2 separate regions of the Homo sapiens genome follow, and region 2 is linked to region 1. The links come from fine-mapping of genetic effects on gene expression. Tissue or cell type: spinal cord. Region 1 holds a variant in brackets; the other region holds the start of a gene. All regions are shown on one strand. Distances are between the middles of the regions.

Region 1 (10,740 bases):
GAGGCCAGGAGCTCGAGACCAGCCTGCCCAACATGGCAAAACCCCATCTCTACTAAAAATACAAAAACTAGCCGCCTGTGGTCATGCGCACCTGCAATCTCAGCTACTTGGGAGGCTGAGGCACAAGAATCACTTGAACCTGGGAGGCAGAGGTTGCAGTAAGCCAAGATTGTGCCACGGCACTCCAGCCCGGGCGACAGAGTGAGACTACGTCTCAAAAAAAAAAAAAAAAAAAAAATTAAAATTACCTGGTAATAGACTATAAATCTACATAGCATGAAAGCACATACATCAGCAAACTGCAGCATCGGGTGCAGACCCACCGCCCGCCCCTCCCGGGCCTCCACTCTGGGGCAACCAGGAAGGGTTCCGGTTCCTGCCGAGACTCTGTGTGGGGTGAGGGGCCTGCACCCCTCATGGGAGCTGCCCCCCGTGAGAGGATGTGGGCGGCGGACAAGGCCCCCAGGAGTTCTAGATGCTTCCTTCTCTGGTCTACAGGTTTGAGCCACTCCCTGGGGCCTGTGCAGATGGAGGGAGAGAGGGCGCACATCAGTGTTGACTCTGAGCTACAGAAGCTTCCATCAGGTTCTTCCAGCAAAGAGGCAAAGGCCCAGGGTTGACTTTTAAAATCAGAACTACTCAGTTCTTTTTTAAAGCAAATTTTTCCATCTTAAACATCAATGTGATGCTTCTTACAGTATAATGCTAAAACACTTTTGAAAAAAAAATCATTATCTGAAAAGCCAGAATTAGAAGTTAGCGTTTCAGTTTTTGAAAAACGGAAAAAAATGGTTAAATTCACAAGAAGCTAACAATGAAAGTGCCTGATACAAATAAATGAGAAAAGCCAACATCACAGACTGTAAAAACAATGACTTCGGGAGGTTGAGGTCACTTGAGGTCAGGGGTTGGAGACCAGCCTGAGCAACATAGCAAAACCCTATCTCTATAAAAAAAAAAAAATGTTTTAAAATTAGCTGGGTGTGGTGGCTCATGCCTGTGGTCCAAGCTACTTGGGAGACAGAGGCAGGAGGATCACTTGAGCCAGGAGATCAAGGCTGTAGTGAGCCGTGATGGCACCACTGGACTGCAGCCTGGGTGACAAAGCGAGACCCTGTCTATAGAAAACCTAAAATAGGCTGGGTACGGTGGCTCATGCCAGTAATCTCAGCACTTTGGGAGGCCAAGGCAGGCAGATCATGAGGTCAGGAGTTCAAGACCAGCCTGAACAACATGGTGAAACCCCGTCTCTGCTAAAAATACAAAAATTAGCCGGACGTGGTGGCGGGTGCCTGTAATCCCCAGCTACTAGGGAGGCTGAGGCAGGAGAATCGCTTGAACCTGGGAAGTGGAGGTTGCAGTGAGCCAAGATCGCGCCGCTGCACTCCAGCCTGGGTGACAGAGCCAGACCCTGTCTCAAAAACAGAAACAAAACCAAAAACAAACGAACAAATAAAAACCAAAAATAAGTAATGAAATAAAAACAGTGACTAAAAATCCAATTAAAACACAATCCAAATCTGACTTACAGTGATCCAGGCCTCACAAATGAAAATAATGATGCGTGGGGCTTGCTTTAAAATGCTCAGCCCTCAGCCCAAAGAGAGAGGGGGACAAGCCAGGAGGGCAGGCGCTAAAGCAGCTGATACAGGTGAGGGCGACGGGCCTCTCCTGGGCGATCCAACTCATGTGCACGTCTCACATTTTCCAAAGTTAAGGATTAAAAGAAAAGTGTTGCCACCACAGCACGTAGGTGACTCAATCCAGGCAGTGCTGGGAGCAGGTGGGTGGACTTGACCCAGGCGGTGCTGGGAGCAGGTGGGTGGACTTGACCCAGGCGGTGCTGGGAGCAGGTGGGTGGACTTGACCCAGGCGGTGCTGGGAGCAGGTGGGTGGACTTGACCCAGGCGGTGCTGGGAGCAGGTGGGTGGACTTGACCCAGGCGGTGCTGGGAGCAGGTGGGTGGACTTGACCCAGGCGGTGCTGGGAGCAGGTGGGTGGACTTGACCCAGGCGGTGCTGGGAGCAGGTGGGTGGACTTGACCCAGGCGGTGCTGGGAGCAGGGGATTCCTGTTGGGGCTTCATAACATGCATAAACTCGTGTATACTTTTGTGTACATACCAAGTCCTCTACAATTAATTTTTAAAATTATCACTGCCTTTTTTTTTTTTTTTTGAGACGGAGTCTCCCTTTGTCTCCCAGGCTGGAGTGCT[G/C]TGGCACGATCTCGGCTCACTGCAAGCTCCGCCTCCCGGGTTCATGCCATTCTCCTGCCTCAGCCTCCCGAGTACCTGGGACTACAGGCGCCCACCACCACGCCAAGCTAATTTTTTTGTATTTTTAGTAGAGACGGGGTTTCACCATGTTAGCCAGGATGGTCTCGATCTCCTGACCTCGTGATCCGCCCGCCTCGGCCTCCCAAAGTGCTGGGATTACAGGCGTGAGCCACCGTGCCCAGCTGAAGGCAGCTTTTTAAAGAACAGGATCTGAGGGAGGCTTGAGGACAGGGTGTCCTGGGCTGGAGGTCCGGCTGGAAGGCAGCTTTTAAAAGAACGGGATGTGTTCGTTCTGTAGGTGAAAGGAGCTCAGTAAGTGCTTATATTGGGGCCCAAATAGTGTTTGCCAGGAATGTATACACTCAGCCTCTGCAGTACACTTTCCCTGCTTGAGGAAATTCTATCCTCCTACTGAAACTGAGATAAATTAAAATGTATATTGTAATACCTATAGCAGTAAGAAAATAACAACTTTAAAGATACTGTTTAAAAATGTTCAACAAAAGAATTGAAGTGGTACACTAGAAAACACAACTAGAAAATACACATTTAACAGAAAAGAAGGCAGTGAAAGAACAGAGGAGCAAAACATGAAACATAAACTGCAAATATAAACACAAATCCACTCACATTGATAATTACATTAAACATGAGATTAGGTTTTGCGCAGTGGCTCATGCCTATAATCCCAGCACTTTGGGAGGCCAAGGTGGGAGGGTTACTTGAGCCCAGGAGTTCAAGACCAGCCTGGCCAACATGGCAAAACCCTCTCTCTACGAAAAATACAAAAATTAGCCTGGCATGGTGGTGCATGCCTGTAATCCCAACTACTTGGGAGGCTGAGGCAGGAGAATCGCTTGAACCCGGGAGGCAGAGGCTGCAGTGAGCCGAGATTGCGCCACTGCACTCTAGCCTGGGCAACCGTGCGAGACTCCATCACACACACACACAACAACAACAACAAAAACGGGCATGGTGGCGGGTGCCTGTAATCCCAGTTACTTGGGAGGCTGAAGGAGGAGTATTGCTTGAACCCGGGAAGCGGAGGTTGCACTGAGCTGAGATTGTGCCACTGCACTCTGGCCTGGGTGACAGAGAGAGACCCCACTTAAAAAAAAAAACAAAACAGCTGGGTGTGGTGGCTCACACCTATAATCCCAGCAGTTTGGGAGGCCGAGGCGGGCGGATCACTTGAGGTCAGGAGCTCAAGACCAGCCTGACCAACATGGTGAAACCCTGTGTCTACTAAAAGTACAAAAATTAGCCGGGTCTGATGGCACACTCCTGCAGTCCCAGTTACTCGGGAGAATGAGGCACGAGAATCCCTTAAACCCAGGAGGTGGAGGCTGCAGTGAGCCGAGATTACGCCAGTGCACTCCAGCCTGGGCAACAAAGTGATACTCTGTCTCAATTCAAAAAACAAAACAGGCCGAGTTCCAGTGCGGTGGCTCACACCTGTAATCTTAGAACTTTGGGAGGCTGAGGCGAGTGGATCACCTGAGGTCAGGAGTTCGAGACCAGCCTTGCCAACACGGAGAAACCCCATCTCTACTAAAAACACAAAAATTAGTTGGACGTGGTGGCTCATGCCTATAATCCCAGCTACTCAGGAGGCTGAGGAAGGGAAATCACTTGAACCCGGGACGTTGAGGTTGCAGTGGGCTGAGATCGTGCCATTGCACTCCAGCCTGGCGACAGAGTGAGATTGTCTAAAAAACAAAAACAAAAACAAAAACAAAAACAAAACAAAAAAGTAGATTAAACACTCCAATCAAAAGGCAGAGACTAGTGTGGTGGTTCACACCTGTAATCCCACCACTTTGGGAGGCTGAGGCGGGTGAATCTCTTGAGGTCAGGAGTTTGAGACCAGCCTGGCCAACATGGTGAAACCCGTCTCTATTAAAAATACAAAAATTAGCTGAGTGTGGTGGCAGGAGCCTGTAATCCCAGCTACTTGGGAGGCTGAGCTATGAGAATCACTTGAACCCAGGAGATGGAGGTTGCAGTGAGTGGAGATGGAGCCACTGCATTCCAGCCTGGGGGACAGAGTGACAGTCCGTCTCAAAAAAAAAAAAAAAAAAAAAAAAAAGGCAGAGACTATCAGACTAGATTAAAACCTAAGATCCAACCACATTCTGTCTCTAAGGGAATGCTTAAGAGCCAAGGACACAAAATTAGAAGTAACAAGATGTTTGTTTATTTATATGTTTATTTAATTAAAAAATAGAAACAGGGTCTCGCTTTGTTGGCCAGGCTGGCCCTGGGCTCAAGAGATCCTCCCCTCTTGGCCTCCCAAAGTGTTGGGATGACTGGTGTGGGCCACTGCACCCAGCCAAAAAGGTTTTTTTTAAAAAGATGCAGGCTGGGCGCAGTGACTCATGCCTGTCATCCCAGCACTTTGGGAGGCCAAGCGGGGGTGGAACACTTGAGTCCAAGGGGTCGAGACCAGCCTGGGCAAAATGGCGAAACCCCGTCTCAACTAAAAATACAAAGAATTAGCTGGGCGTGGGGCGTGTATCTGTAGAGGCTGCCGTGAGTCAAGATCATGCCACTGCGCTCCAGTCTGGGTGACAGAGTGAGACTCTGTCTCAAAAGTAAAAGATGCAAACATTCACCATAAGACAGGTGGAGTGTCTATGCTACTATCAGAAAAGGTAATTTTTTTTTTTTGAGATGGAGTCTCGCTCTGTTGCCCAGACTAGAGTGCAGTGGAGTGATCTTGGCTTACTGCAACCTCCGCCTCCCAGGTTCAAGCAATCCTCCTGCCTCAGCCCCGCTAGTAGCTGGGATTACAGGCACGCGCCACCACGCCTGGCTAATTTTTGTGTTTTTAGTAGAGATGGGGTCTTACCATGTTAGCCAAGCTGGTCTCAAACTCCCGACCGGTGATCCACCTGCCTCAGCCTCCCAAAGTGCTGGGATGACAGGCGTGAGCCACTGTGCCCAGCTAGAAAAAGTAAATTTTAATATAAAAACTTCTGTTGGCTGGTGTAGTGCCTCATGCCTATAATCCTAGCACTTTGGGAGGCTGACATGGGAGGATCGCCCGAAGCCAGGAGATGGAGACCAGGCTGGTCAACATAGTAAGACTCCATCTCTGTAAGAAAAAAAAAAAAAAAATTAAATAAAAAATAAAAAACTTATTGAGACAAAGAAGGATGTTTTATAATGATAAAAGAGCTAATTCATCAGGAATGATAATTATAAACTAAACATACATGCACCTAACAACAGAGACCCAAAATAAATGAAGCAAAAACAGGCATAATGGCAGATAAAAACAGATAATTCAGCTGGGCACGGTGGCTCACGCCTGTAATCCCAGCACTTTGAAAGGAGACTGAGGAGGGCAGATCACAAGGTCAGGAGATCGAGACCATCCTGGCTAACACAGTGAAACCCTGTCTCTACTAAAAATACAAAAAATCAGCCGGGCGTGGTGGCGGGTGCCTGTGGTCCCAGCTACTCGGGAGGCTGAGGCAGGAGAATGGCGTGAACCTGGGAGGCGGAGCTTGCGGTGAGCTGAGATGGCGCCACTACACTCCAGCCTGGGCGACAGAGCGAGACTCCGTCTCAAAAACAAAAACAAAAACCAGATAATTCAACAGTAATAGCTGGAGAGTTCAACACTTCACTCTAAATAAGGGGTAGAACAAATAGAGAAAATCAGTGAGAATATGAAAGAGTTGAACAATACTATCAACCAACCTAACTGATATCTAATACTCCACCCAACAGAGCAGAATATACAAGCAACACTCTCCATGATAAGACCATACGCTAGGCCCTAACACAAATCTCAATAAATTTAAAGGTACTGAAAAACACTAAGTATGTTCTTGAACCACAATGTAATTAAAGTAGAAATTAATTATAAAGGTACATTTAAGAAATCCAGAAATATTTGAAATTAGCATACTTCTTTTTTAGATCTACTCCTGAATCCAGCACACACTTCCAAATAACTCATAGGTCACAGAAAAAAATCACACGGCAAATATTTTCAACTGCATAAAATATTCGAACTGAATAAAGATGAAACACAGGCTGGGTGCCGTGGCTCACACTTGCAATCCCAGCAATTTGGGAGGCCGAGGCAGGCAGATCACTTGAGGCCAGAAGTTTGAGACCAGCCTGGGCAACATGGTGAAACCCTGTCTCTACTAAAAACATAAAAATTAGCCGGGGGTGGAGGTGCATGCCTGTAATCCCAGCTACTCGGGAGGCTGAGGTAGGAGAATCACTTGAACCCGGGAGGCAGAGGTTGCAGTGAGCCGAGATCTTGCCACTGCACTCCAGCCTGGGCTACAGAGCAAAACTGTCTCAAAAAGAAAATAGAGAAGGAGGGCAGAAGGGCACACTTCCCAATTGATCTGAAAGGCCAGTGTTGCTCTGACACCAACATGAAACAAAGACATCACAGGACAAAATATAGACCAGCATCTCTCATAAATATGAGAAAAAAAAACCATCAAAAAGATTAGTAAAGCTGCTGGGAACAGTAGCTCACACCTCTAAATCCCAGCACTTTGGGAGGCCAAGGTGGGTGGATCACCTGAGGTCAGGAGTTCGAGACCAGCTTGCCCAACGTGGTGAGACCCCGTCTCTACTAAAAATACAAAAATTAGCCAGGTATGGTGGCGCATGCCTGTAATCCCAGCTACTCGGGAGGCTGAGGCAGGAGAATCGCTTGAACCCGGGAGGCAGAGGTTGCAGCGAGCCAAGATCGCACCACTGCACTCCAGCCTGGGTGACAGAATGAGACTCTGTCTCAAAAAAAAAAAAAAAAAAAAAAAAAAAGAGTGACTAAATGCTCCCGAGTACTCTGATTATGGTAGACAAAGTTATACAATCCTGAACTACCGTTTGTAGCCTACAAAATTTCTCTTGAATTTCTGTGGAGCGGAGGGCTGAATAATAGAGGAACTGTGGACGCTGTCTCTCGCGTGGCTCTGCAGGGGTGTGGAGGGCTCAATAATAGAGGAACTGTGGACAGTCTCTCTCTCGCGTGGCTCTGCAGGGGTGTGGAGGGCTCAATAATAGAGGAACTGTGGACGCTCTCTCTCGCGTGGCTCTGCAGGGGTGTGGAGGGCTCAATAATAGAGGAACTGTGGACAGTCTCTCTCGCGTGGCTCTGCAGGGGTGTGGAGGGCTCAATAATAGAAGAACTGTGGACAGTCTCTCTCGCGTGGCTCTGCAGGGGTGTGGAGGGCTCAATAATAGAGGAACTGTGGACAGTCTCTCTTGCGTGGCTCTGCAGGGGTGTGGAGGGCTGAATAATAGAGGAACTGTGGACAGTCTCTCTCACGTGGCTCTGCAGGGGTGTGGAGGGCTCAATAATGGAACTGTGGACAGTCTCTCTTGCGTGGCTGTGCAGGGGTGTGGAGGGCTGGGAAGCACTGACCAGCAGCCCTCAGGGTTTCCGGCCACCAACTGTGGGGCCTCACATGAGAGCACTACCTGGCCATGTCACATGTGAGCCTTCTGCAGGGTCTTCACGGAGCCAGGCAGGAGCCCCGGATTCCCAGAGGGAGGGACAGGGAGGGGAGTCAGGTGTGGCACCAGGAGCACAAGGGGAGGGAGGGCCACCCAGGGGTCTTCGTAGCGAGGGAGGAGGCGGGGGCACTGAGCCTGGTGTAGGTGAGACCTACCTTGCGTTGGCAGAAGGTGGAGCAGTAGTTGACCTTGTGGCAGCCGGTGCACTCGCTCATAGCCTCCCGGCCGCAGTTAACGCAGGACTGCTGCAAGAAGGACACAACAGGCCAGTCAGTGACGTGGCCGTGGAGAGCCCCTGAGACACCGGGGACAGAGGCAGGTGCAGGCAGGAGGCCCCAAGTTCCCCCCATTGGACCCCCTTTTTTTTTTTTTTTTTTTTTGAGATGGAGTCTCACTCTGTCGCCCAGGCTGGAGTGCCGTGGTGCGATCTCAGCTCACTGCAACTTCCGCCTCCTGGGTTCAAGCAATTCTCCTGTCTCAGCCTCCTGAGTCTGGGATGATAGGTGCCTGACACCACGCCCAGCTAATTTGTGTATTTTTAGTAGAGACAGGGTTTCACCATGTTGGTCAGGCTGGTCTTGAACCTCTGACCTCGTGATCCACCTGCCTCGGCCTCCCAAAGTGCTGGGATTACAGGCGTGAGCCACTGCGCCCAGCTCCCATTGGACTCTTGACTGCGCCTCTGCCCCAGTGCTGCTCAGAACGTTCTTGTCACCTCCAGAATCAGCTCTTTCCTGGCCTCAGTGCAGTTTGCCCCCTACATTCATTCACTGGAAGACCAGTATGGGCCGGGAGCAGCGGCTCATACCTGTAATCCCAGGACTTTGGGCAGCCGAGGCGGGTGGATCACCTGAGGTCAGGAGTTCAGCACAGGCAACGTTGCGAAACCCAGTCTCTACTAAAAATACAAAAATTAGCTGGGTGTGGTGGTGGCCACCTGTAATCCCAGCTACCTGGGAGGCTGAGGTGGGAGAATAGCTTGCACCCAGGAGGCGGAGGTTGCAGTGAACCGAGATTGCACTACTGCACTCCAGCCTGGGTGACAGAGCGAGACTCCCATCTCAAAAAAAAAGGGAAATCAGGGCCGGATGCAGTGGCTCATGCCTGTAATCCCAGCACTTTAGGAGGCTGAGGTGGGCGGATCACGAAGTTAGGAGATCGAGACCATCCTGGCTAACACGGTGAAACCCCGAGATTGTACCATTGCACTCCAGCCTGGGCGACAGAGCAAGACTGTCTCCAAAACAAACAAACAAACAAACAAACAAAAACAAAGGGAAATCAGCATGGAAATCTTTCTCCAAACTCCAAGGAGCTTCACTCCAGCCAGGCCAGCACAGAAAATCAAACTCAGGAGTCCACCGCTCCCAACACTCCTGAGCAGGGCTGTGGGCATCAGCCTGGGCGCACCGTGGCAGGCATGTGTCCCAAACTGCTGCGGCGGTGCCCCAGCCAACACCCCCACGGCCCCACCTGAGCTGGTTTCTGTGGTGGATTGAAAAGATGCCACCAGAGGTTTGTGTACTTTCTCCTGGAATTACATTATTGGAGCTTTTCTTTTTAATCAGCGCATAGGTCAACATGCTGTCAATGATTAATGTTTGCGGCATGACTAAGGTGCTTGACAGTTGTGAGCTCCGCCGTCAATGCTCTCTGAGACGGAGAAGACCACTGGGCCTAGGAGAGGCCTTGGCGCCGCGACCTGCACGCCCGCTATGCGCCCAGATCATCCGCAGCTGCGGGAGGGGCCGTGGCCAGTGGGTGAGTGGCAGCGTCTGTGAGCAGCACAGAGCAGCACAGGAAACGACTCCAGCGCGGCCCCACGGCCCCTGCACGCGTGCAGACCTGCTCCGAGGTTCTGTTCTGATGCTTGCCTCCCTCCTTCGCAAACGTGATCTTTAACATTTTTCCAGTTGTAAGACATTCAGAGCTCCGACATTCAGTCACTCACTTCAGAAAACAGGAGCATTAGGAGGAATTTTGGTGCTAATTTAGGTTGCCCCCTGCCTCTACTTTATTTATTTATTATTATTATTATTTTTTTGAGATGGAGTCTCACTCTGTCGCCCAGGCTGGAGTGTAGTGGCGCAATCTCGGCTCACTGCAACCTCCACCTCCTGGGTTTAAGTGATTCTTGTGCCTCAGCCTCCCCACAGCTGGGACTACAGGCACGGACCACCACGCCTGGCTAATTTTTTTGTATTTTTAGTACAGATGGGGTTTCACCATATTGGTCAGGCTGGTCTCGAGCTCCTGACCTCAAATGATCCACCTGAGTCGGCCCCCCAAAGTGCTGGGATTACAGGCATGAGCCACCGCGCCTGGCCTGTGCCTCTACTTTAAATGACAAACTTTTTTTTTTTTTTTGAGATGGAGTCTCGCTCTGTCGCCCAGCCTGGAGTGCAGTGGCACGATCTCAGCTCATTGCAACCACCACCTTCCAGATTCGAGCAATGCTTCCACCTTAGCCTCTCAAGTAGCTGGGATTATAGGCGCTTGCCACCATGCCTGGCTAATTTTTGTATTTTTAGTAGAGACGGGGTTTTGCCCTGTTGGCCAGGCTGGTCTCGGAAACTCCTGACCTCAGGTGATCCGCCTGCCTTGGCCTCCCAAAATGCTGGGATTACAGGCATGAGCCACCAAGCCCAGCCGACAAAATATTTCTTAAAAAGTCTGTAACCACAGAGAAGCTTCTCGAAGGAGAACACAGCTTCTGCAGGCTTTATTAACATTCTGGGTTGCTCTGTGGATGGCCGGGCCAGGCAGGACCCTGGTCCAGCCCCTCACAGACAGAGGTCAGGTGGGGTGGGAGGCTGGCGGGAGCGTGGTCACTGTCCCGGGGAGCGGCCCCCACGCTGAGAAGGGCACGGGTCTCCGTGTCCAGCAGTCCCTGTGCACCACACACCAGGACGTCCTGTACTTGCCCCCCAGCATAGTTCCTGGAGGACAGCACCCCTGAACTGAACGGGA
Region 2 (8,588 bases), 25 kb before region 1:
GTGGTGCCTGTCCTGGCAGGACTTATAACAACAGACAAAAAGGACTTTATAAAGCCAGGAGGTGGCAGGTGCTCCACAGAAAAATAATGCAGGTACTTGGGGATGCAGCCAGCAGAATCTCAGGTGAGGAAAGACAATCCATTTTCTTTTCTCTGTTTTTTTTTTTTTTTGGTTTTTGTTTTTGTTTTTTGGTTTTTGGGTTTTTTTGGATACAGTCTCGCTCTGTCGTCACCCAGGCTGGAGTACAGTGGTGTGATCTCGGCTCACTGCAACCTCTGCCTCCCAGGTTCAAGCGATTCTCCTGCCTCGGCCTCTGCCCACCTCGGCCTCCCAAAGTGCTGGGATTACAGGTGCCTGCCACCATGCCCAGCTAATTTTTGTATTTTTAGTAGAGACGGGGTTTCACCATTTTGGCCACATTGGTCTCGAACTCTTGACCTCAGGTGATCTACCCGCCTCGGCCTCCCAAAGTGCTGGGATTCCAGGTGTGAGCCACGGCGCCCAGCCAGGACTCTTCTTTTTAGAACATAACCACAATGTCGTTGTCACACCTGGGAAAAGCGGTCACTTTCTACCTCAAATGTCCAGGATGCCACATTCCCCGTGGTCTCTGAAGGGTTTTTTAACAATTGTTTGTTTGAATCAGGGCCCACATTATGGACCTGGTTGGTAATTCTCCTGAGTTTCTGTTCATCTGTACCTTTCCCTTTCTCCCATCTTTTTTCCTGGAGATTTATTTGTGAAGAAACTGGATTGTCAGCCGGGCACGGTGGCTCACACCTGTAATCCCAGCACTTTGGGAGGCCGAGGCGGGCAGATCACCTGAGGTCAGGAGTTTGAGACCAGCCTGACCAACATGGAGAAACCCCGTCGCTACTAAAAATACAAAAATTAGCCGGCCGTGGTGGCGCATGCTTGTAATCCCAGCTACTCAAGAGGCTGAGGCAGGAGAATCGCTTGGACCCGGGAGGCGGAAGTTGCAGTGAGCCGAGATCGCTCCACTGCACGCCAGCCTGGGTGACAGAGTGAGACTCTGTCTCAAAAAAGAGTCTCTCTCTTTCAGAGACATATCCCAAGATATGTGCAGGTGACGTGCCGTGGTGCATGGAGGGCACAGAGCCTGCTGTGTGCTGGTAGGTGAGGGGGCCTGTGCTGGCCTCAGGATTCTGCAATTTTCCTTAATAAAGCCGAAAAAAATGCCGCCGGTCAAGAAGCAGGATGTTGGGGGAGCGGGGCTGGGATGCAACAGGGCATAGGGTGGTTGGGATTTCTCTGAAGACTGCAGTCCTGAGCCGGTGAGGGAGGGGCGTGCCTGGCGGGAGCCCTGAGGCTGCAGTGGAGCCTCTGCACAGTATGTCTGGGTTTGACTCGGTGAGAAAGGAGCCGTGGAGGGCTGGGGTGGGCTGGGCAGCCTTGGTTTACAACATCCACAGGGGCTGTTCTGCCACGTGGAGTGGACTGGGGCCAGCAAAGGGCAACAGGGAAGCCGGTGGGCCAGCTGGAAGTTTCCCAAAATGAGTGCTGGTGTCCCGGCCCTGATGGGACTGGAGGTGGACAGACTCTGGATTTCTGGGTCGAGCTGGGGCACAGCCAACAGATTTACCAGTGGGGGGCTGTGGGGGACACGTGGGGAGGGAGGGCGAGTGGGAACCAAGGTGGTCCCCGTGACTGGCAGGATAAAGGTGCCTCCCTTGTGGATGGTTGAGGGAGTGGGTGGGAGTCTTGGGCACACTGGATGGGGTGTCTGCTGGACAAGGGGTCAGTGACGGGGACTCCACAGCTCAGGGCAGAGTCTGGACTGGAGGAAATGTGGGCATCACCCTCGGGGGGGTGGAATTTGAAACCACACCCTAGCTGACGTCATCAAAGACTGGTCCTGGACCGGCAGGGCAGAGCCCAGCAGAGGTGGCCGGGTGGGGCGGGGAGAGCGGGGCGGGGACTCACCAATGTGCCTCCGCTCTGACACAGCAGCTGAGCCTCAAGCAGTGACTTCTCCTGTGGATGTAGACAGGTCTGCAGTCACCGTCCTGCCCCACAGGTGGGGAGACTGAGGCCAAGTGGGCAGGCGCTGGCCCAGGGTCCCCATCATCAGTGGTCAGTGCTGAGGGTGTGGGCCCAGGCAGCTTCATCCCGAAATGGCCCAGCCTTCTAGGGCAGGCACCACCAAGCATGGGTGTCAGTGGATGCCCGCAGGCATAGAACTCCTAGGCCCCCAAGGGAGGTGTGGCCTGAGGATGCAGGTGCCCTTCTCCCGGGACCCCCATATCCCGCCCGCCTGCCGCCCACACCTCGTAATCAGGAGTCACGTTGAGAAACAGCTGGTTTCCCTGGATCCGAAATGCAAAGGGGGTGGACAAGGCTCCGAGGGTCACCTCCTGGCCCTCCGGGACGTGGATGTCCACCAGCGGCTCGGTGACATTTGTGTTCTCCTCTACTTCAAAGATGTCCTTGTTCACAGAGCAGTCTGTAAGGTTGCAGAGGAGGGATCAGTGCCTCCCAGCCCCTGGCTCCCCGCCGCCCGTGCCCCACCTACCCCTGCCCGCACATACACTGGGCCTGGGCCATGGTCCCCGGGGGTCGGACGAGCAGCCCGGTGAACAGCAGGGGAGGCCACAGCAGGGCCCAAGACCCCATCTTGGCGGCTGTCACCTGGCAGGAGGGTCTGAGCGGGTCTGGCGTCTAGGACTGGCGCAGTTCCTACCTCAGCGACCTTCGCCCCAGCCAGACGCCGCCCAGTTTATGATCCTTTACGACCGGCTTCTGCCAAGGGGGCTCCCGCTGGCCGGCTGGTCCAGCCCACTGCCAGAAGGAGGGGCAGTCGTTTGGCCCAAGTTGGACTGAGTGCAGGGGTCAACCAGGGGGCTCAGGTCACAGGCACCGAGGCACAGGGCAGAAGGGACTGGAGAGCGGCTCATGGGTGCCGTGGGGGTAGGGGCAGGGCAGGGGCAGGGCTAGGGTGTGGGAGAGAAGCTGGGGGCTGGGGGCGGGGGCTCGGCCCTTGGTGTCGGGGTGTCTGGAACCTGCCTCCCTAGCCCAGGCTGCCCTGGCTTGGCTCCTCCCCTAAGATCTCCCTCAGGCAAAGTTCCTAAGGCCACCCCTTGAGGCTCAGAACCCGGGTGTTCCCCAGGGAGCACCTCCCTCCCTGCCTGACAGCAGGTTCTGAAGGAAAAGGCTCTCCTCACTGTGTCCTGGGGACACCCCTGCCTGCCCCAGAGACAAGTCGGCTTCTCAGGGCGGGGCTGGACAGGGCCTTAGTGACTGAGGCTAAGGCGGGGCTGTGAGGGGCAGCTGGGAGTTCCTGGGGGGCCCTGGTGCCCGACAGAGGGGGTGAGGTGAGACTCGACACTTGCCCTGCTCTTTTCATTGGCCCCCCAGAAGCCCCCAGCTCTAGGGAGAGGCCACTGGGTAGGGTCGGGGCGAGGAAGTGGCTGTCGTGAGGGGTAGGTGGAGTTCTCCTCCTCCAGGCCTGTGCGCCGAAGCTTCTGGCCTCTCATGGCTGGGGCTGGGCTCAGTGTCCTAACCCTGCACGGTGCCCTCATGGTCGCCTTCAAGCCCTGCACGCTCCGTGCTCCACAGGCTCTGAGGGGTCAAGCCACTGGTCCGAGGCCACACGAGACAGAGGGTCCGGAGTCCTCACGCCAGAGTGGATTCCTGGCACCCCAGGTGACACCTCCACCCTCCCCTCTTCCTGCCCGCCTGAGCCCCCCTGGCCCCTTCACACCCTCCCCACTACCCCTTACAGAAACACTGACCACATGGGCCCCCGGGCAGGAGCTGAGAGGGTGTCCGGGATCCCCCGAGCCCCAGAATGTTTCCTAATGGATGACAAGGGGTGGGGCGGGGCCCTGCAGTACTTAGTCGAGGTACAGGAGGTGGCCCTGATGCCAGAGATAAGGATGAGGGGCCGCCGTGCCTGCAGGTGTAAAGGGCAGCTGGGTGTGGTCAGTCCCTCCTGGGTGGATGGGCCTCCATCCATCCCTCAGCCCCGCTACACAGGGGTTGCCTCGATTACACTGAGTGGACACAGACAACTCCCAGCGTCTGGGTCTGATTCCTCCTTTATTGGTGCCAAGTACCACCCCTCCCCCTCTCCCCCATCCTGCCCCCCACCCCAAATGCAGCTGCGCTCCTGGGCCGGGCAGGTGGTGAGGGGGTTCCTTCCTCATCTGGGCCGCAAGGTTCCTTCTGCAGCAGCGCCAGCTGGTTCTGAAACCATAGGCCCAGGGGGCAGCCAGGGAGACCAGGTCCCGTCCAGGGGCATCCTGCAGAGACAGCACGTGAGGGTCTGAGGGCTGGGGCTGGAGACCCCGGCCCCGCTGCTGGAATTGGGCCTCCAGTGGCCACCAGCGCTGACCCGGGGAGGCCAGGACAGAAGGAGGGGTCTGGGGTGGGGTCTGGAGTGGGGTCTGCGGTGGGGCGGGTGCTCACCAGGCCTGCAGGATGGGCATGTTGGACCCTGACGGGCAGAGCAGACCCGCGCTGAGCCTGGTCCAGGCCATGCTGTTCTCTGCGTCCTGCTCGCTGCCCCCCGCCCCAAAACAGAGTTAGTCCTGGAGCTGGGGGGTCGCGCGTTGCTGCTGGGGCACCACGCCAGGACCCCCCACCCCACCCGGCCTCACCTGCGCTTCCCCACCAGGCCCTGTAGCAGCCGCTGGAGCCGCGCGCCCTCCCGCAGGCGGCTGAGCTCGCTGGTGAACGTCCCGTCTGAGTGTCGCCGGGCCCTGCGGGCGGTCGGGGGTCGGGGTCAGGGCGCACTGGGGGCGGGTGGGGCCCGGGGGGCGGGCGGGCCTGGCGGGCGGCTCACCTGGGGGGCGCGGGGCGCGCGGCGGAGCCCCCGAGGAGCAGCAGCAGCAGCAGGAGGGGCCGGGGGGCCATGGCGGGGTCGGGGCGCAGGAGCTGAGCGCTGCGGCCACGGCCCCGGGCCCCCGCAAGGCCCCTTTATGGCGGCGCCCGGAAAGGGGACGGCCCGGCCGCGCCCAGCGATCCCGGGAAGGTCAGGGCCGCCCCCCCAGCTGTCGCCCCGGCCCGGCCTCCCGCCCCCTCCGCCGCGCTGGCGCCCCTCGGCCGGCTGGGGGAGGGGGACGTCCCGGCCTGGGGGGCGAACGGAGCGCGGGCCTGGGACCCGCAGAGGGAACCGCACCGCGAAGCCTCGGAGCCTGCGGGGGCGGAGGGGCCGGAGGGCTTGGGGGAGGGTTTGGGGGGGGACTGGGGGGCCCCGGGGAAGGGGCTGCGGCCGGAGTTCCGGAGGCCCCTGGAGCACCTTGCTGGGGCGAGTTCGTCTCCAGCTTCAGCGTGGCGTGACTGTTGGGGGGCCGGTGTTGCCATTTTATCTGCTTTGAAGTGCGCGATTCAGGATCATTCGGTGCATCCATCCCCACCATCCGTTCTCAGACTTTCCCGTCCTCCCAAAATCCGTTCACAGACGCTCCCGTCCTCCCAAAATCCGTTCACAGACGCTCCCGTCCTCCCAAAATCCGTTCACAGACGCTCCCGTCCTCCCAAAATCGTTCACAGACGCTCCCGTCCTCCCAAAATCGTTCACAGACGCTCCCGTCCTCCCAAAATCGTTCACAGACGCTCCCGTCCTCCCAAAATCCGTTCTCAGACTCTTCCGTCCTCCAAAAATCCATTCTCAGACTCTTCCGTCCTCCCAAAATCCGTTCTCAGACTCTCCCGTCCTCTCAAAATCTGTTCACAGACGCTCCCGTCCTCCCAAAATCCGTTCACAGACGCTCCCGTCCTCCCAAAATCCGTTCACAGACGCTCCCGTCCTCCCAAAATCCGTTCTCAGACTCTCCTGTCCTCCCAGAATGAAGCTCTGTCCCCATCAAACGCCCCCTCCCCTCCTCAGCCCCGGCGCCCCGTCCACTTTCTGTCTGTGGATTCAGCGCTTCCAGGGACTGCGCGCAGGGGGAGCCTCACGGGATTTGTCCTTTGGAGACCGGCTGGATTCTCAGCGCAGCATCCTCCGCCTTCGCCGCCGCGGCCTGGCCTGTGTGGGAATCTCCTTCCCTTTTGTGGGGAACTGTGTCCCGCTGTGTGCAGGGACCGCATCGACCGCGTCCGCTCATCTGTGGGCATCTTGATGGACACCTGGGCTGCCTCCCCTTTGGGGCGACGGCGAGTAACGCTGCTGTGAACGTGGGTGTGCAAACGGCGCTTCCCGATCCCGTTTTCAAGCGTTCTTGGTGTATAGTTATGAGGGAATTGCTGGGTGACAGAGTAATTATGTGTTAAATATTCTGAGGAAACGCCAAACTGTCTTCCCAGCAGCGCAGCAGGGACACGGTTCTTGTCCTCGCCAACACTTGCTACTTTGTGGCTTTTTGTTTGTCGCGTACTAACGATGCCGGTGGGTGCGACGTGGTGTCTCGCTGCGGTTTTGATTGGCATCTCCCTAATGGCCAGCGATGTGGAGCATGTTCTCAAGTGTCTGTGAGCCATTTATACATCATGGAGTGGACGGAGAAATGGCCGTCAAGCCCTTTGATGTTCTGCTGTGGTTGCGAGTCATGCACTGTATCCGTCTGTTAAATCAGCCACAATATTTTCCCCAGCGTTTGCATCATTTCACAGCCCCGCCAGCAATGTGGGGCTGGCTGGCTGGCTGGCTTGCTGGCTTGCTTGCTTTTCTTTCTTTCTTTCTTTCTTTCTTTCTTTCTTTCTTTCTTTCTTTCTTTCTTTCTTTTTCTTTCTTTCTTTCTTTCTTTCTTTTTTTCTTTTTCTTCCTTTCTTCCTTTCTTCTTCCTTTCTTCCTTTCTTTCCTTCCTTTCTTTCTTTTTCAGAGGGAGTCTCGTTCTGTCACCCAGGCTGGAGTGCCGTGGGGCCATCTCAGCTCACTGCAACCTCCGCCTCCCGGTTTCAAGCAGTTCTTGTGCCTCGGCCCTCCAAGTAGCTGGGATTACAGGTGCCTGCCACTATGACTGGCTAATTTTTATATTTTTAGTAGAGACAGGGTTTCACCATGTTGCCCAGGCTGGTCTGAAACTCCTGACCTCAAGTGATCCACCTGCCTCGGCCTTCCAAAGCACTGGGATTACAGGCGTGAGCCACAGCGCCCGGCCTCACTTTCTCTGCACACTGTCAACATCCCTGCAGTCGCTATTTTTAACCTTCAGCCATTCTCTCTGCGGCAACACCTCCTTGTGGTCTTAGTTGCATTTCCCCAGTGGCGGGTGATTCCGAACCTCTTTCCAGGTGCTTGTTTCCATTTGCATGTTGTCGTGGGTTAAATGTATCTTCACATCTCTTGCCCGTTTTTAAATTGTTCTCTACTGCTGAGTTTTGTTTTTTTTTTTATTGTGGGAAAACATGCATAACATGAAACTTACCATTTTAGCCATTTTAAAGTATGAAGTGATACTTAGTACGGTCACGGAATTATACAACCAGCACCGCTGTTTAGTTCCAGAACTTTTTACTCCCCAGATGGAAAATCTCAAATCCATAAAGCATTTACCTCCCCTTCCCCCATCCCTTCAGCTCCTGAGTAACAATGAATTTACTTTCTGTCTCTGTGGATCTGCCTGTTCTGGGTATTTCATACCAATAAAATCCTAAAAGCTGGGCATGGTGGTACATGCCTGTGGTCTCGGCTACTTGAGACGGTGAGGCAGGAGGATGGTTTGAGGCCAGGAGTTCGAGACCAGCCTGGGAAACATAGCAAGACCCTGGTCACTATTTTTATTTATTTATTTATTTTTATTTATTTGTTTTGAGATGGAGTTTCACTCTTGTTGCCCAGACTGGAGTGCAATGGCGCGATCTTGGCCCACTGCAACTTCCGCCTTCTGGGTTCAAGCAATTCTCCTGCCTCAGCCTCTGGAGTTGCTGGGATTACAGCACCACCATGCCCAGCTAATTGTGTACTTTTCATGGAGGCAGGGTTTTGCCATATTGGTCAGGCTGGTCTTGAACTCCTGACCTCAGGTGATCCGCCCGCCTCAGCCTCCCAAAGTGCTGGGATTACACGCAGGAGCCACCGCGCCTGGCCCCAGAATTTCATTCATTTTAATGGAAAAATCACACTGCATTTGGTTCATCCATTCACCTGCTGAGGACGTTTGGTTTATTTCTACCTTGTATATATTGTGTTTGTTTGTCTGCTTGAGACAGAATCTCGTTCTGTTGCCCAGGCTGGAGTGCAGTATATGATCTCCGCTCACTGCAACCTCCGCCTACCAGGTTTAAGTGATTCCCCTGCCTCAGCCTCCTAAGTAGTGGGACTACAGGCATGCACCACCACACCCCCTAATTTTTGTATTTTTAAAAAATATTTATTTATTTATTTACTTTAGAGACGGACTCTCACTCTGTCACCCAGGCTGGAGTGCACTGACCTGATCTCAGCTCACTGCAACCTCCGCCTCCCGGGTTCAAGCTATTCTCCTGCCTCAGCCTCCCAAGTAGCTGGGATTACAGGCACCTGCCACGCCCGGCTAATTTTTGTATTTTTAGTAGAGACGGGGTTTAACCCTGTTGGCCAGGCTGGTCTCCAACTCCAGGTCTCAGGTGATCCACCCGCCTCGGCCTCCCAAAGTGCTAGGGTTACAGGCATGAGCCACTGTGCCCGGCCAGTACTTTGTGTA

Alleles and levels. Positions count from the first base shown, and alleles are read on the strand shown. Sizes are in standard deviations (SD) of each study's normalised expression.
In carriers of allele C in region 1, the expression in spinal cord of the gene that starts at base 4,913 in region 2 tends to be lower than with G alone (moderate effect, 0.49 SD a copy in GTEx).

What was found. PIP is the estimated chance that this variant, and not a neighbour inherited with it, causes the effect.
Region 2: SCT starts here. The variant in region 1 is the best candidate, but not a certain one, in a credible set for the expression of SCT in spinal cord (GTEx, PIP 0.80).

What each region holds. Positions count from the first base shown.
Region 1 is chr11:646,037-656,776 of GRCh38, forward strand. It overlaps DEAF1 (DEAF1 transcription factor), which reads right to left. Exons shown (of 12, transcript NM_021008.4): 11 at 7,926-8,015. It overlaps LOC124902603 (a long non-coding RNA gene), which reads left to right and starts at 8,987. Exons shown (of 2, transcript XR_007062543.1): 1 at 8,987-9,531. The variant G/C (reference allele first, on the strand shown) is at 2,215.
Region 2 is chr11:622,269-630,856 of GRCh38, forward strand. It overlaps SCT (secretin), which reads right to left and starts at 4,913. Exons shown (of 4, transcript NM_021920.4): 1 at 4,805-4,913; 2 at 4,620-4,721; 3 at 4,429-4,521; 4 at 4,041-4,262. The coding sequence starts at 4,875. The coding sequence ends at 4,163. CDHR5 (cadherin related family member 5) reads right to left here and starts at 2,687. Exons shown (of 15, transcript NM_021924.5): 1 at 2,550-2,687; 2 at 2,289-2,464; 3 at 1,945-1,995. The coding sequence starts at 2,634. RefSeq lists an enhancer at 4,447-4,947 and a silencer at 4,541-4,835.